2 linked regions of the Homo sapiens genome follow. The protein of the gene in region 1 interacts with the protein of each later gene in a pairwise test. Each region holds a gene or a part of one and is shown in the gene's direction. Other genes may lie near its edges.

What was found. Proteins that work in one complex are often made in the same cells at the same time.
Region 2: the proteins of BAHCC1 (region 1) and CLSTN1 interact in a two-hybrid assay, tested with the Homo sapiens proteins (one study listed by BioGRID and IntAct).

What each region holds. Positions count from the first base shown.
Region 1 is NC_000017.11:81,390,666-81,398,467, forward strand, and holds the start of BAHCC1 (BAH and coiled-coil domain-containing protein 1), read left to right. Parts: upstream 1-4,791; 5' UTR 4,792-4,970; intron 4,971-7,802.
Region 2 is NC_000001.11:9,743,966-9,750,999, reverse strand, and holds part of CLSTN1 (calsyntenin-1 isoform 1 precursor), read left to right. Parts: intron 1-1,086; coding exon 1,087-1,236; intron 1,237-1,353; coding exon 1,354-1,539; intron 1,540-6,356; coding exon 6,357-6,605; intron 6,606-6,994; coding exon 6,995-7,034. UniProt on the Homo sapiens protein: Postsynaptic adhesion molecule that binds to presynaptic neurexins to mediate both excitatory and inhibitory synapse formation.

The sequences.
Region 1 (7,802 bases):
GGCAAGGCCCTCATGAAAAGAACTCGCCCCAGTCGATAGCAGAGGGACCCGTACAGGCAGATGGGTGGGGTGGGGGGTCAGGACCTCTTCCAGGAGGGAGTGGGATTGTTCCTAACCCCCTGCCCCCAGCTGTCCTCTGGAACACTGATTCTGGGGTGGGGGTGAGCTGCTGCTGCCCTCCAGTTGAGGGAGGTCTCTGTGCTGTGAACCATCTTAGATCCCCCACCTCTACCCCACCTCTACCCCGCCTACCCCTCCTGCCGCCAGCCCCAGCCTCAGGCCTGGCCTCTGGACTTGTCCCCCTGCGCCTCTGGTGGGAAGAATTAAGAGTCAATTTTTGTCGTCAAGAAATTGTTTCTAATTTGCCCTTTGACTAATGGCCCAGGGAACAATGGAGAGATACCCAACACACGATTATTGGGGGCGCAGCGGGCGCAGCGCGGCTGCTCTCGGGCCGAAGCAGGCATTTATTTGGAGCAGCGGCTAATTCACAATTTCATGGAACTTGCCTGACACCCCCACCCCCTTGTATTAAAAAATGATTATTTATATGATGATTTCAGACAGAGCAGCATCTCAGAGGTTTGGGAGCCGGGAGACCTACATCTGCTGCTCTTGGGGAGCGTGGGGGTGGGAGAGGAGTGCTGGAGGGGGCTCCAGGGCTGGGCCCGGTTGTGGGGGAACAGGGGCCCCTAGGCTGAAAGGGAGAAGGCAGTTCTCGGGAGTGCTTCTGCGTGTGTGATATGCCTCTGCACACATGTCTTGTGCATGTGGGAGTGTCACATGCTGCACGAGGCTCACCTGTCTGCCCATCTGTGCTGTGGGTTTGGTTTTGTGTACACTTCCAAGTGATTCACATGTGGGCACATGAGTGTGTGCAGGCAGATGTGTGGGCACACATTCAAGACTGTGCACAAGTGTGTGTGTGAATATAGTGTGCGTTAAAGGGTGATGTGAGCCGGCCTGCTAGGTGTAGGAGCGCAGCTGGTTATGTGGGGCGGGGGGTTATCTGCTCCCCAGGCCAGAGGGCAAATCTGGAGTGGTGTATGCCAGGCCCATGGAAGTGACTCCAGATCCTGCTGGAGAGGGATCAAGGTGGGGTTCAAGGCCACTCCTGGCACTGTTCCAGGCCCCACTGGGTGTCCACAGGCCTAGCCTCACTTGCAGCCCGCTCACCTGCAAAGCTGCAGGAACTTCAGAGACCTGGGCCCTCCAGCATCAACACTGACCTCGGGTCTATTATCCCCTCTCCTTTCCTCCCCCTCTGTCCCCTCGCTGGCCCTCTCCCCAGTGGAAGGCAAGTCTGCAGATCCCCACACCATGTTCCTCTGAAATTAAAAACATTTGTTAGCTCTGGACAGCAGGAAGAGTAAAAAAGGAAAGTAGGGAGGTTTCCTCTGAGCAGATCGCCAGCCTGAGCTCCCGGCGGCCCAAGTCTTCCAGGGGAACTCGGGAGCTTATTTTGGTATTGCGGGAGCTGCCCAGCGGCCAGGCGCCTGTGCTGGGCAGCTGCCAGCCCCTCTCCACCGCGTCCAGCAGACCCGTCTGCAGTTATTTGCTGTAACAACTGTTTTGAAACAGTATTGAAAAAAAAAAAGCCCACTAGAATTTGCTTCAAGTGAACACTGGGGGAGGAGGAGGCAGAAGTGGGGAGGAAGGAGGAGGGCAGGGAGCTTCCGCACTGCCCTGGAAGGCGCACTCGACGCCTCGGGGCCTTTGCCCACGCGAGCAGCCTCTTTCGGGGACACGAAGGGACCAGCACTTGGGGGATTTGAAGCCAGTGCTCATCCTAGGAATCTGGTGAGGCTGAGCCAGAAGGGTCTAAACCAGCTTGAGGAGATAGGGGCCACGCACCCGCGAGCTACCCTCTGCCCTCCCATGTCCCTGGCAGTGGGCATTTCTCAAATGGTGATTGATGACTGGGGATGGGGGTGGGCAAGCCGAGGGCCCATCATTCAGGCTCCAGGACCCTCGAACAATCTGCCCACGGGGGAGGGGAGGCTGGTTTAGGGGCTCTGAGGGGCCTTTCCAGCGGCTGTCCTTCCAACACACTCTAGAGGAGACCAGGACTCCCAGGGGCTTGGGGCCTCCCGTTCCCCCACAGGGCGGTTAGAGGTGGAGCACCTGCCCTGATGCGAGGAGCTCAGAGCAACTTCTGGGACACCACGGGTGGCCACGGTGTTCTTTTTGTTGCATCCAAGATTTTTCTCGTATACGTATTTTCCTATATTAAAAAATTCAAATGAGGCTTTAAAAATTAACTTGAAAAAGGTTCCTGATCCGGAAACAGGCTCATCGGAGGCAGTGATGGGAACTCGGTTCCTTAGGAGAGTAGGAAATGCGCCGTCTGCGAGGGGCGCCCTGCGTGGACCCGGGGCCTCGGGGCGCGTCCACTTACCCGAGCCAGGAGAGACTGGGCCCCACGGTGTTAGCCCCGCGCTCGGGCTCGCGCGCCGCTTCCAGCTCGCGCCTCCTCCATCCCCGGAGGGCTCCGCGGGTCCCCGGCGACGGGTCCCTGCCCAGGGTCCGGGAACCTTCCCCTCCCCTCCTTTCTCAAGCGCCATTTCTCCGGAGCCGGGCCGGCCGTCCTCGGTGTACGCGGGAAGCGGGCAGCCTCCGCCTGCACCCGCGGGGCCGGGACCCGGAGGCACCCGCTTCCCCGACACACTCGCTGGGGCCGCTGCTCGCTGCTCCAGCCTCCCGAGGCCACGGCAAGAGCCCGGGGGTCGGCGCCACACACCCCCAGCCGGCGACCGCGCCCAGGGACCTAATTCAATCGCCCCCAGCCTAATGAATAGCCGCGCGCTAATCGGATCTCCGCGCGCTTCGGGGATTTACGCTTCCCGGCTCTCCCCCTCGTGCCCCGCGGCCCGCCAGACGTCGCTTCCGAAGGCGCCGGCCTGGGGCCTGGCCAGGGGCTCGGCCGCGGGGGGTCCCGGCCGCCGGAGCCGGGAGACGCCGGAGACGGGAGCCGGGCCCGCGCGACCGCCACTCCCGAGCCAGCCGGGGTGGGCCCCGCGCCTTGTCCTGCGTCCCCGGCCCGGCCCGCGGAGCGCCGGTGCTTACCTGCGAGCCCCGGGCTCTCCGGAGCTCCCCTCCGGGCCGAGCCGCCCGAAGCGGGCGCCGGCGTAGGCCCCGACTCAGGCAGGCGGGAAATCCCGGAGTCCCCGCCCGCGGCCCGCAGCCCCCCACCCCAGGTCGGCGTGGCCTGCGGGGGGGAAGGCCGGCCGGGGCCGGCCGCCCGCTTCCCCTTTCTCTCCAGATTCCTTTGATCCGCGGGCTCTCCGCCGCACCTCGGCTCCCGGGCTGCCCCGGTCGGCCCGCGGGGATCCTGGAAACGGTCCCCAGCTTATCTCCTTTCATCAAGCGGCCTTGGGCCGCCTTGAAACCGCGGAGCCAGTAATTGCTTTTTTCAGGAGGCCCAGTGCGGACTGGACAACAGCCAATCAGCGCCTTGTTTACACTCGGTGATGGACAGTCCACTGGCGGAGTGCCAACCAATCCCAGCGGTCCCGCGGGAGCGGGAGTGGGGGCGGGGAAACAGAGAGACAACAGGCTTTGAGTTTAACTCTTTCGTGTCCCTGCCGGAATGAGACGGTGGAGAATTTCGAATGCGTGTGAATCTGTCAGTTGGCTCCTAGTTTAAATATCCTTTTTTCCCCCAGAGGGGGAGGCAGAGATTCACATGGAGAAAGAGGAGCAAAAATAAATGTATCCATCGCCACTAAGACATCACCTCGACTCCCTGAGAATAAATAGCATTTGGGTGGGAAACCAAATTCTAACAGAAATATTTGTTTGCGGAATATTTTAGAAGTGGTTTGCATCTGATTACGATAAAAATTGTTCAGTGGCTTGCTTTAGTTGGAGTGAGGATTTAGCAGATAGGCAGACAGGGAGCAGCATTGAGAAATACTATACATGGTTTACCACACCATACCCGCTTCCCCCATTACCAAACTGAAAATATTTTCTAAATCTAGGTGTAGATGAAGAAAGGGCAATCCTTGTCTTCTCAATAAATCCCTGATTTTCATTTTAGTAGCTGCTCTGTTGCAAAGTGTGGCAGAGGGAGATAAAATTGAGAGCCAGTAATGTAGACGGCTGGAGACTCAGAACTCACTTCCCAGGGTCTGATCCCCAGGTCATGGGGAGGAGAGAGCCGGACGGGCTATTCAAAGCTTTTGCTGCCCAAGCAGCGGGCGTGCGTGCGTGCATCCGCGAGCTCGGGTCCGGGCAGGCAGCAGCTTCAGAGCGGTAGATGGGCCAGGCAACCTGGGGAGGCCTCTGGGCTTGGAGGTCTGGCCTACCTGCCACCTGCCAGACAGATTCCAGGGAGAAAAAGCAGCTACTTTTAAGGGGTGGTGGTGTTTCTTCCCTTGGCCTTCTGTGCGGCAGAAGCCAAACGTTAGACCTGCTGGATTAAACATATATGTGTGTGTGTGTGTCTGTGTCTGTGTCTACGCCTCCCCCTCCGCCGGGACACGCGCACTCGCTCGCTCCAGCTCCCTCTCCCGCCCTGCGCCACCACATTCCCATTCAGCAGCAATGATCTGCGCAGAGGAGCTGCGCAGTCGCCGGGCTTGAATTAGGCGCCATCGGGCTTGGTAGTAGCCCCGCTGCTTCCTGATTGGCAGTTCCCTGGCCCGGCGCCAGCCTATTGGGAGGCCTGTTTACGCCGAATGAGTGGCACGAGCTCCCGGCCGTGGAGGGCTGCGCGGCCAATCAGCGCGCTGGCTGTTCCGGGCTGAGTGGCACGAGCTTATTAGTATGCAGGGCCCGTGGCTCGCCGCGCCAGGCTGCAGGTTTGAGAGCCGCTCTGGATGGGCTCGCTAGAGTCGTTGTTGTGGAAGCGGTGCATTTACAGTGCAACAGTCAGCACATTGAAAATACCAATAGGAATACAAAACAAAGTCACATTTACTGATTTAATTGTATTGCATTCAGTTGTATCCAGGAAACAGCCTCCAGTAAGTAACTGAAATTGCTTTCATTTTTTTTTTGTTTTTGTATTTTTATTATTATTTTATTTTTTATTCTGGCTTTGGGGTTTTACATTTTTTTTAGCAAAAGAAATTCAGGATTGTGATGTTAAGAAGTATATATCTTCCCTTTTAACAAAATCCGTTAAAATGTTGAGGCTTTTTTTTTTCTTAAAAAATATGGACTATGAGCGATTTTTTTTTCTCTGAAAAATCTTATCGATCGGTTTAAAATTACCCCCGTAATGCATCCTTGCTTTGCTCTGAGCGCTTGTTGTCTCGATCGACACCCAGCATTAAAAACAAATACTCGAAGACAGGACAGGGACCGCCAGGCTGCGTCTGGCGCGAGCCGCGCGGGTGGCACCGGGCGGACAGTAGGCGAAGTCCGGGCGCCGCCAGCGTGCGCCCAGTTCTGGGTGACCCACGAACGAACCCCAACATTCGCTCCCCTACCCTGCTCCCCTCCCCGGAACAGTCCTGGGTTGGCCCTGCCCGGTCGGTCCGCGGCGAGGGGAACTGGCCGGGTCGTGGTACCCACGGCCGCTGCCCTGAGGGGCCTTCCGGGCCGAAGCTAGGGGCCGGGGAGGGGAATGGTCATGGCGAGTTTTTCGGGTCTTCGTTCCCAATTCAGAATTTTTTTTTTCCGGAGAAGTGGGGGTGGAGGAGGGGGACCGAGCAAGGCCGGCGCAGCGGGGCGTTTTCACCGCGCGCGTTCGGGACGGCGCGCGGGGCTCGGGTCACGGCCCGTGTGGCGGGGTCCGCGGGCTGGTTTTCTTCGGGCGCGGGGGTCAGGCGCGACCCCAGTTCTCATGACTCTCCCAGGGAGCGGGTGCGGCTGTTTCGCAGGGAGCGGGTTCTGCGGCGACGGCCGAGCCACTCGCGCCCCAAGGCGCGCCTGGTCCCAGCCCGGCCTGCAGGCCCCACCGCGCCCGCGCTCCCGGAGACGACGCCGGAGGGAGGCAGACGGGCCAGAGTCCTGGTCTCCGGCAGGCGGGCGAGGAGAGAGCGGGTTTTTAGATGCAAAAGCAGGAAACAAAGCAAACTTGTAGAAGCTCCAGATCCTGGAGCGCGCCAGCCACGCCTGGGGCCGCGGCAAGAGGGACCGGCGGCTCCAGGGTCACGCCCTGCCTTCCCGGGAGGGAGCCCTGTGCTCCTAGGTTCAGTTCCTTCCGAAATGCCCTCGTCAGCGATTCTCCGCCCGCCCGGGGCCCTCTGCCCGCCGCCACTTTTCGCTCCATTTCCTCCCTTACCTCAGCCCGACCTGGCGCTGCGGCGCCGTCCTCGCGGTCCTCCGGCGCGGCCTCTCCTGGAGCTGGGCTGGGAGTGGGCCCCGGGCCTCGGCACTCGGCGGGTGGCGGCGTCGCCGCTGCGGGACTGTGGGACTCCCAGCTCGGGCCGTGTGGCCGCCCTTCCTCGCCCCACTTCCTGGCCGCCTCAGGCTCCCCAGGCCCCCGAAGCCCGGCGCGGGCAGACGCGGAGGCGCGGCGCGGCCTCTCCCCGGGAGGAGAGAACACAAAGAAAAGCTCTCTCCAATCCGGTCAGAGCCGTGGCGGCGCAGGCAGGCGACAGTAATCCACCTCCTGTTTGCTTAAAAAGTCGAGCAGGCTGGTGAGAAAGGAACAATCGGGCCTGCGATCCGCCCGCAGGGGGTGGGAGATTAAAATTGTTGCTTCGTAGCCGAGCCCGCGTCCCGAGAATCGCCGGCAGCTCGCGCTTTCTCAACTTTGAAATTTCTTATTGGAGAGAAAAAAAAAAAAAAAAACAACCACAAAACAAAAGCACAGCACACACGACTCCCTGGAGGCCGCCAGGAAGCCTGGCACCCCCGCGTGCGCAGCCCCCGGCCCCTCTCCGGCCTTCGGCGCCTTTGAAGCTGCAGGTTTCTGACCTCCCTCCCTTTCCTTCTTTCCCTTTGTCCCGCCCGGCGCCCTCCGGGGCTCGGGAGGCGCCGGCCGGGGCTGGGGGCCCCCACGTCCCTAGTCCAGCCCGGGCAGCCCCTCCCCTGACCCCTGCGCTCGCAGCCCCCTCGCCAGAGCACTCTCCGGGCCCTGGCGGCCGGGCGCTCGCTTTGCAGGCCGGGATCGGGGCTTGGGAGCCGAGCTATTTGTTAGACCCGGGGAGAGAGCTGGCGATCCCCAGAGGGAAGGGAGCCCCAAACGCCTTTGTATGTAGTTGCCAGACAAAGAGAACTCTTTGTGTAGACCCATTTATTTACAATGCAAAAGCTCTCCGAATAAATATTAAAAAAGCTTATCAGCTGAGCAAATATGTATTCACTTAATACATTATGTTTTCGGTTATAGATTAAATCAAACACAAAATAGTCTGCAAATAAGACGTTTTAGAACCCGGACCATAAAATATCGCAATTTAAAAAGGTATTCAGTAGATGGAAAACATCTTAATCGCTTTGTTGTCATGGTGGAATGGCTACAAAAACACAAGGTTTTCCGCAAAGTTCCTAATTAGGAATATCAAGCCTATCCATCTCCCTTTTGTTGGAGGTGATAAACATTAAAACAATACGTATTTAGAAGATGAGGAGTAATATGTGAAGTGCGTCCAGGGAGCGCCTTCGGAGGGACGCCTGGGAGCACGGTGGTGCACGCAGCTTCTATCACTGGCTCCGACCCTCCGCACCCAGAGTCTAAAATTGTCCCCAATTTCGCCTGAGTGGATGCTCCGCGTTGGGTGGGGGTGGAAGAAAATGGAGGTGAGGGTTATTTTAGGTGGCCGAGGTCCGGGCAGGGTCTGCTGGCAGAAGGTTGTGCTGGGCCGGGCCCACCTTCCCCGGCTAGAGGGCCGAGCTGGGCGCCG
Region 2 (7,034 bases), on another chromosome or scaffold:
TCTGCCTCCCGGGTTCAAGTGATTCTCCTACCTTAGCCTCTCGAGTAGCTGGGATTACAGGTGCCCACCACCACGCCCAGCTAATTTTTTGTTGTTGTTGTTTGTATTTTTAGTAGAGATAGGGTTTCACCATGTTGGCCAGACTGGTCTTGAACTCCTGACCTCAGGTGATCCGCCCACCTTGGCCTCCCAAAGTGCTGGGATTACATGTGTGAGCCACCGCGCCTGGCCATGTTCTCCATTAAGTTAGAATCTCCTGTGACATCTTTTTTTTTTTTTTTTTTGTTTGAGGGAAGGTCTTGCTCTGTCGCCCAGGCTGGAATGTAGTGGTGCAGTCACTGCTCACTGTAACCTCGAACTCCTGGGCTCACGGGATCCTCCCGCCACAGCCTCGCTAGTAGCTGGGACTGCAGGCACACACCTGTAGTCCCAGCTATTTGGGAGGCTGAAGTGGGAGAATCGCTTGAACCCAGGAGGCAGAGGTTGCAGTGAGCCGAGATCAGGCCACTGCACTCCAGCCTGGGCAAGAGAACGAGACCCTGTTCCAAAAAGAAAAAAAAAGATAATACAGTGTTTCCATTGTTAATCAATGCACGGTCTAGAATCTTTGATGGAATTATGGACATTGCAAACACTTTCCAGAGATCTATACTCACCACGTTCAAAAAGCAGGCTTCTGTTCTAAGCAGGTGGGGGTAGGAAATCTCTCTTTCTTTTAATATAGTAAATGTTTGATCAGCGATCTTATATTTAATATTTGAGGTACTTGAATTATTATTATTTTTTAATCCTCTGAATGTATGTAAACAGTTAAATCTTAATGTAAAGCCCAATGTAACACTGTGAGAGTAAGTGGAGACTGAGCTGTGTAGCTCCGTCTCTTCTGTTGAAACTCTTCAGGATGGATTTAGTGCGTGTTAGGGCTCAGGGAGGACAGGTTGAGGGTTAAGCATCCCAAGCATATGTTTATTTCTGGCTGAGTATTTACAGGGCTTAAAGCCTATGCATTTTGTCTTTCCGCCTAGGACAACAAAAGTAAAACCAGCATGGGTTTTGGCTCTCACTGTTGTTTTTGCCCTCTGTAAGGTTATATAAAAAACACAGAGAAATTAAACTACGGGAAAGAACATCAATATAAGCTGACCGTCACTGCCTATGACTGTGGGAAGAAAAGAGCCACAGAAGATGTTTTGGTGAAGATCAGCATTAAGCCCACCTGCACCCCTGGGTGGCAAGGTGAGCTTCATTCTCTCCCCTGCGCTCACATCTGCTCTTAAAACTGATGTATGCGGCAGCAACCTAGAGTGTGTGTTTTCCTTCTCTCTTCCCCTGCTGACTTGTGGACCAACACAGGATGGAACAACAGGATTGAGTATGAGCCGGGCACCGGCGCGTTGGCCGTCTTTCCAAATATCCACCTGGAGACATGTGACGAGCCAGTCGCCTCAGTACAGGCCACAGTGGAGCTAGAAACCAGCCACATAGGGAAAGGCTGCGACCGAGACACCTACTCAGAGAAGTCCCTCCACCGGCTCTGTGGTAAGGAGACCAGGCGTTCTTGCATCCGGCTGGCTTTGGTGAAGGTGGGAGGGACCTTTACAACTGGAAATACTTGTGTGTGTTGTGTTCATAATTATAAACTGTGACAGAGAATCTGCATTTCTGAAGTGAACTTTGCTGCCTTGCTGGCTAGTTTTCATACTGGATGGGCTTCGGGGGTGGGGCAGGGGGTGGACATCAACTCCTAAACGTCTATTCAACATGTTGTGTATATGTGCATTTTAAGAACCACTGGTGGCCAGATGTGGTGGCTTATACCTGTAATTCCAGCACTTTAGGAGGCCGAGGTGGGAAGATCACTTGAGCCCAGGAGTTTGAGACCAGCCTGGGCAACACAGCGATACCCCATCTCTACAAAAAATTGAAAAATTAACTGGGGATGGTGGCATGGACCTGTAGTTCCAGTTACTTGGGAGGCTGAGCGGGAGGATCACCTGAGCCCGGGAGGTTGAGGCTGCAGTGAGCCGTGATGGCACCATTGCACTCCACCCTGGGCAATAGAGTGAGACCCTGTTTTAAAAAAAGAACCACTGATTTGAAGGAAGTATTTCTCCAGCATACTCTGAGAATCATCCAAAAAGGGCTTCTATAGGAGTACATGGAGTGAGTTTTACATGAAATGAGATGTTTACTTACGAATTGAAGACAAAGGCCAGGGCATGGGGGCTCATGCCTATAATCTTACCACTTTGGGAGGCCGAGGTGGGCAGATCACCTGAGGTCAGGAGTTCGAGACCAGCCTGACCAACATGGAGAAAACCCTGTCTCTACAAAAAAAACAAAAACTAGCCGGGCATGGCGGTGCACGCCTGTAGTCCCAACTACTTGGGGGGCTGAGGGAGGAGGATCGCTTGAGCCCAGGAGGTGGACGTTGCAGTGAGCCAAGATCACGCCGCTGCATTCCAGCCTGGATGACAGAGTGAGAACCTGTCTCAAAAAGAACTGAAGGAAAAATATAGGTAATACAATAGCTTTTGACAAACATGAAGTAGAAAATCAGAACTAAAGATAGCCACATCTAACTTAGAATCTCAATAGATTTTCTATATCACAATATTGTGTGGAGAAATTGAGAGACAGAATTACTGGGAAACCCACCAGAAGGCTAGGTCTCTCTTTACTGTCAGCTGCGGATATTTTTCTGGTTTATCTAAATGAAGAAGAGGTGAGGTATGGATGGCTGTCATGGAAGATGTTGAGGGAAGAACATTTAGTTGACTGGTGATAAAATCCCACTAAATGAAGCAGCGTCTTCATAAATTGGAAGGGTCTTTTGTGTTTCAAAAAGCTTTTGTGAAACAGCTTTTCAGGGAGCATTTTCTTAAACTGATGAGTCTTTTCACTAGCCTGATAACAACCATGAGATTTAGGTTACTGGTTTTCTTTTTTTTTTTTTTAGACAGAGTCTCACTCTGTCACCCAGGCTGGAGTGCAGTGGCGCCATCTCGGCTCACTGCAAGCTCCGCCTCCTGGGTTCACACCATTCTCCCGCCTCAGCCTCCCGAGTAGCTGGGACTACAGGCACCTGCCACCATGCCCGGCTAATTTTTTTGTATTTTTAGTAGAAACGGGGTTTCACCGTGTTAGCCAGGATGGTCTCGATCTCCTGACCTCGTGATCCGCCCACCTCGGCCTCCCAAAGTGCTGATTGCAGGCATGAGCCACCGCGCCCGGCCACTGGTTTATAATTGAAAATTATCCAGATCACTTGAGGTCAGGGGTCTAAGACCAGCCTGATCAACATGATGAAACCCCCGCTCTACTAAAAATAAAAAATTAGCCAGGCGTGGTGCGAGGTGCCTATACTCCCAGCTACTTGGGAGGCTGAGGCAGGAGAATTGCTTGAACCCAGGAGGCTGCAGTGAGCCAAGAGTGTGCCACTACTCTCCAGCCTAGGTGACAAAGCTAGACTTTGTCTTAGAAAAAAAACAATAAATAAGAAGAAAATTATCATGTGGTAAATAAACCAAAGTAGAAAACTAGACATTATGCTGCCACAGTCCAATGATGAGCATATGGGGGTGTTTGGCAACTCTGAATCCAAATATTCATAATTGTCACCTAAATATATTTAAGTAAGGAGGTCTGGCACATTTTCTGTTTTAAACCATGCATGTAAGTATAATATATAAAATTTATTCCGTCTCTCATTTCATGGTATTAAGTGAATTTTTTTTCAGCAGAATAAAGTTAGGAAGAATAGAAATAATTTGAGTGCTTACTATGCACCAGGTACTTTTTTTTTTTTTTTTTTTTTTTTTTTGAGACAGTCTCCCTCTGTCGCCCAGGCTGGAGTGCAGTGGCGCAATCTCACTCACTGCAACGTCTGCCTCCTGGGTTCAAGCGATTCTCCTGCCTCGGCCTCCCAAGTAGCTGGGATTACAGGCATGTGCCATGATGCCTGGCTACTTTTTGTATGTTTAGTAGAGATGGGATTTCACCATGTTGGCGAGGCTCGTCTCCAACTCCTGACCTCAAGTGATCCACCCACCTCGGCCTCCCAAAGTGCTGGGATTATATGCATGAGCCACTGCGCCTGGCCTTACTCCAGGTACTTCTATGTGTGTTTTAGCTTAATGTTCCCAACAAGTCTACGAAGTAGGTGGGTATTGACCTTGTTACAGAGGAATTAAACAATTGAGACTAAAGCAGGTTAAGTAGCTTGCCCAAGCCCACATATTCAGGAGCTGAGGTTCTAGTGTGTGTGTGTGGTTTTTTTTTTTCTTTTGAGACAGAGTCTCACTGTCGCCCAGGCTGGAATGCAATCGTGCTATCTTGGCTCACTGCAGCCTCCACTTCCTGTGTTTAAGTGATTCTCCCACCTCAGCCTCCCAAGTAGCTGAGATTACAGGCATCTGCCATCATGCCTGGCTCATTTTTGTATTTTTGTAGAGACAGAGTTTCACCATATTGGCCAGGCTGGTTTGAACTCTTGACCTCAGTTGATCTGCCTGCCTCAGCCTCTCAAAGTTCTGGGATTACAGGCGCAAGCCACCACGTCTAGCTTCAGGAGCTAAGATTTGGACCAAGGTCTTCTGTTACTCAAGAGGCCAGGCTGGTCCAGCCAAGGCCTGCTGCTCCGAGTAATAGCTTAGTCAAGAAGGAGCTTGCAAAATCTTTTCCTGTGGACAAAAAAAAATTTTTTTAATTTGAACATGGCAATACATAAGAATGGTTGGAAAACATTTTTTATGTTTTTTGACTTAGTAATTTCATTTCTAGGAATTTATTTTAAGGGAATAATCATGGAGACACATAAAGCTGTGCATGCAGGTGAGGTTTATAATAGGAAAAGGTTAGGGACAGCCTCTGTGCCCACCTGGGAGGCTGGTCAGTAGGTGATGCTGTATCTGTACAATGAAATGCTATTCAGGCCGAGCGCGGTGGCTCACACCTATAATCCCAGCACTTTGGGAGTCTGAGGCAGATGGATCGCTTGAGCCCAGTAGTTGGAGACTAGCTTGGACAACATGGCGAAACCCCGTCTCTACAAAAACACAAAAATTAGCCGGGCATGGTGGCACACACCTGTGGTCCCAGCTACTTGGGAGGCTGAGGTGGGAGGATTGCTTGAGCTCAGGAGGTCAAGGCTGCGGTAAACCAACGCTGCACCACTGCACTGCAGCCTGGGCGAGAGAGGAGACCCTGTCTCAAAAAAAAAAAAAAAAAAAAAACAACTATTCAGATAGTTTAAATTACATGATAGAAGAATATTGCTAGGAATATATATGTATTATGCACATACATAGCAGGACTCCACTTTTATTGTATTTGTTTATATATTTTTGAGACAGGGTCGCACTCGCCCAGGCTGGAGTATAGTGGCACAGTCACAGCTCACTGCAGCCTCAACCTCCTGGGCTCAAGTGATCCTCCCATCTCAGCCTCCCAAGTAGCTGGGACTACAGGGATGCACCACCACACCTGGCTAATTTTTGTGTTTTTTGTATTGACAGGGTTTTGCCATGTTGTCCAGGCTGGTCTCCAACTCCTGGGCTCAAGCAATCTGTGTGCCTTGGCCTCCCAAAGTGCTGGGATTACAGGTGTGAGCCACCAAGCCCTGCCAGGACTCCATTTTTCTAAGAAAACGCATCATTTTTGTGTATATTTACCAAAGGAGGACTGGGTGTTTATACTAAAATGGTATAATTTGAATCAGATTACAAGAAATGCTTCCTTTCCCTTCCTTTTTGTTTTTTTTTTTTTTTTTTGAGACGGAGTCTCGCTCTGTTGCCCAGGCTGGAGTGCAGGGGTGCGATCTCGGCTCACTGCAAGCTCCGCTTCCCGGGTTCACGCCTGGCCCTTTCCCTTCCTTAAACAAATCCATGGTTGTTATTTTTATTTTTGTAATTTAAAACCCTGATTTTTGAAGAGAAGTAAACTGAAAGGGCCAAGCGTGGTGGCTCACGCCTGTAATCCCAGCACTTTTGGAGGCCGAGTCAGGCGGATCACGAGGTCAGGAGTTCCAGGCCAGCCTGGCCAACATGGTGAAACTCCGGCTCTCCTGAAAATGCAAAAATTAGCCAGTTTTAATGGGGCGCGCCTGTAATCCCAGCTACTCGGGAGGCTGAGGCAGGAGAACAGCTTGAACCCGGGAGGTGGAGGTTGCAATGAACCGAGATCGCGCCACTGTACTCCAGCCTGGGGACAAAGCAAGACTCTGTCTCGAAAGAAAAAAAAAAAGTAAACTGGAGCCAGCAGATTGCCTAAGTGTAAGACAAGCACGTGCCTGGGGGCTTGAGGTGCGCGGGACCTCTGGCTCCTCACATGAGTTTCACCGAGCACTGTGGCTTCAGGTGCGGCCGCGGGCACTGCCGAGCTGCTGCCATCCCCGAGTGGATCCCTCAACTGGACCATGGGCCTGCCCACCGACAATGGCCACGACAGCGACCAGGTGTTTGAGTTCAACGGCACCCAGGCAGTGAGGATCCCGGATGGCGTCGTGTCGGTCAGCCCCAAAGAGCCGTTCACCATCTCGGTGTGGATGAGACATGGGCCATTCGGCAGGAAGAAGGAGACAATTCTTTGCAGTTCTGATAAAACAGGTAGGGTAATAGCTCTGCAAGCGATGCCAGGCCCCAGTGTCCAGTAGGGTGGGTGCCAGCGGCAGGCTCCCTCTCCTTTCCCAGGGTCCCCTGCCAGCCTGGTGCTCGTAGGCCATGTGCCATGCTGTGTGCCTGGGGCACTTGGTTCCCTAGAGCCACGGCCTGGGCATTTGGGTATTAGCTGTTGTTGCTCAGTGGGGTCCACGGTGATCACAGGCTCCGCCTCTCAGGAAAGCCCAAGTGTATTTGTTTCTAAGCCCTGCCTTGGCTTAGCCGAAGAGTTCATTTATGCAGATGAAATTGTGTCTTCAAAATCCATTCAAGAAACAGCTTTAATTTCTCCTTTGGATCTTTAGTTGGCAATTTACCCATAGAAACTGCCTTTGCAGATATGAATCGGCACCACTACTCCCTCTATGTCCACGGGTG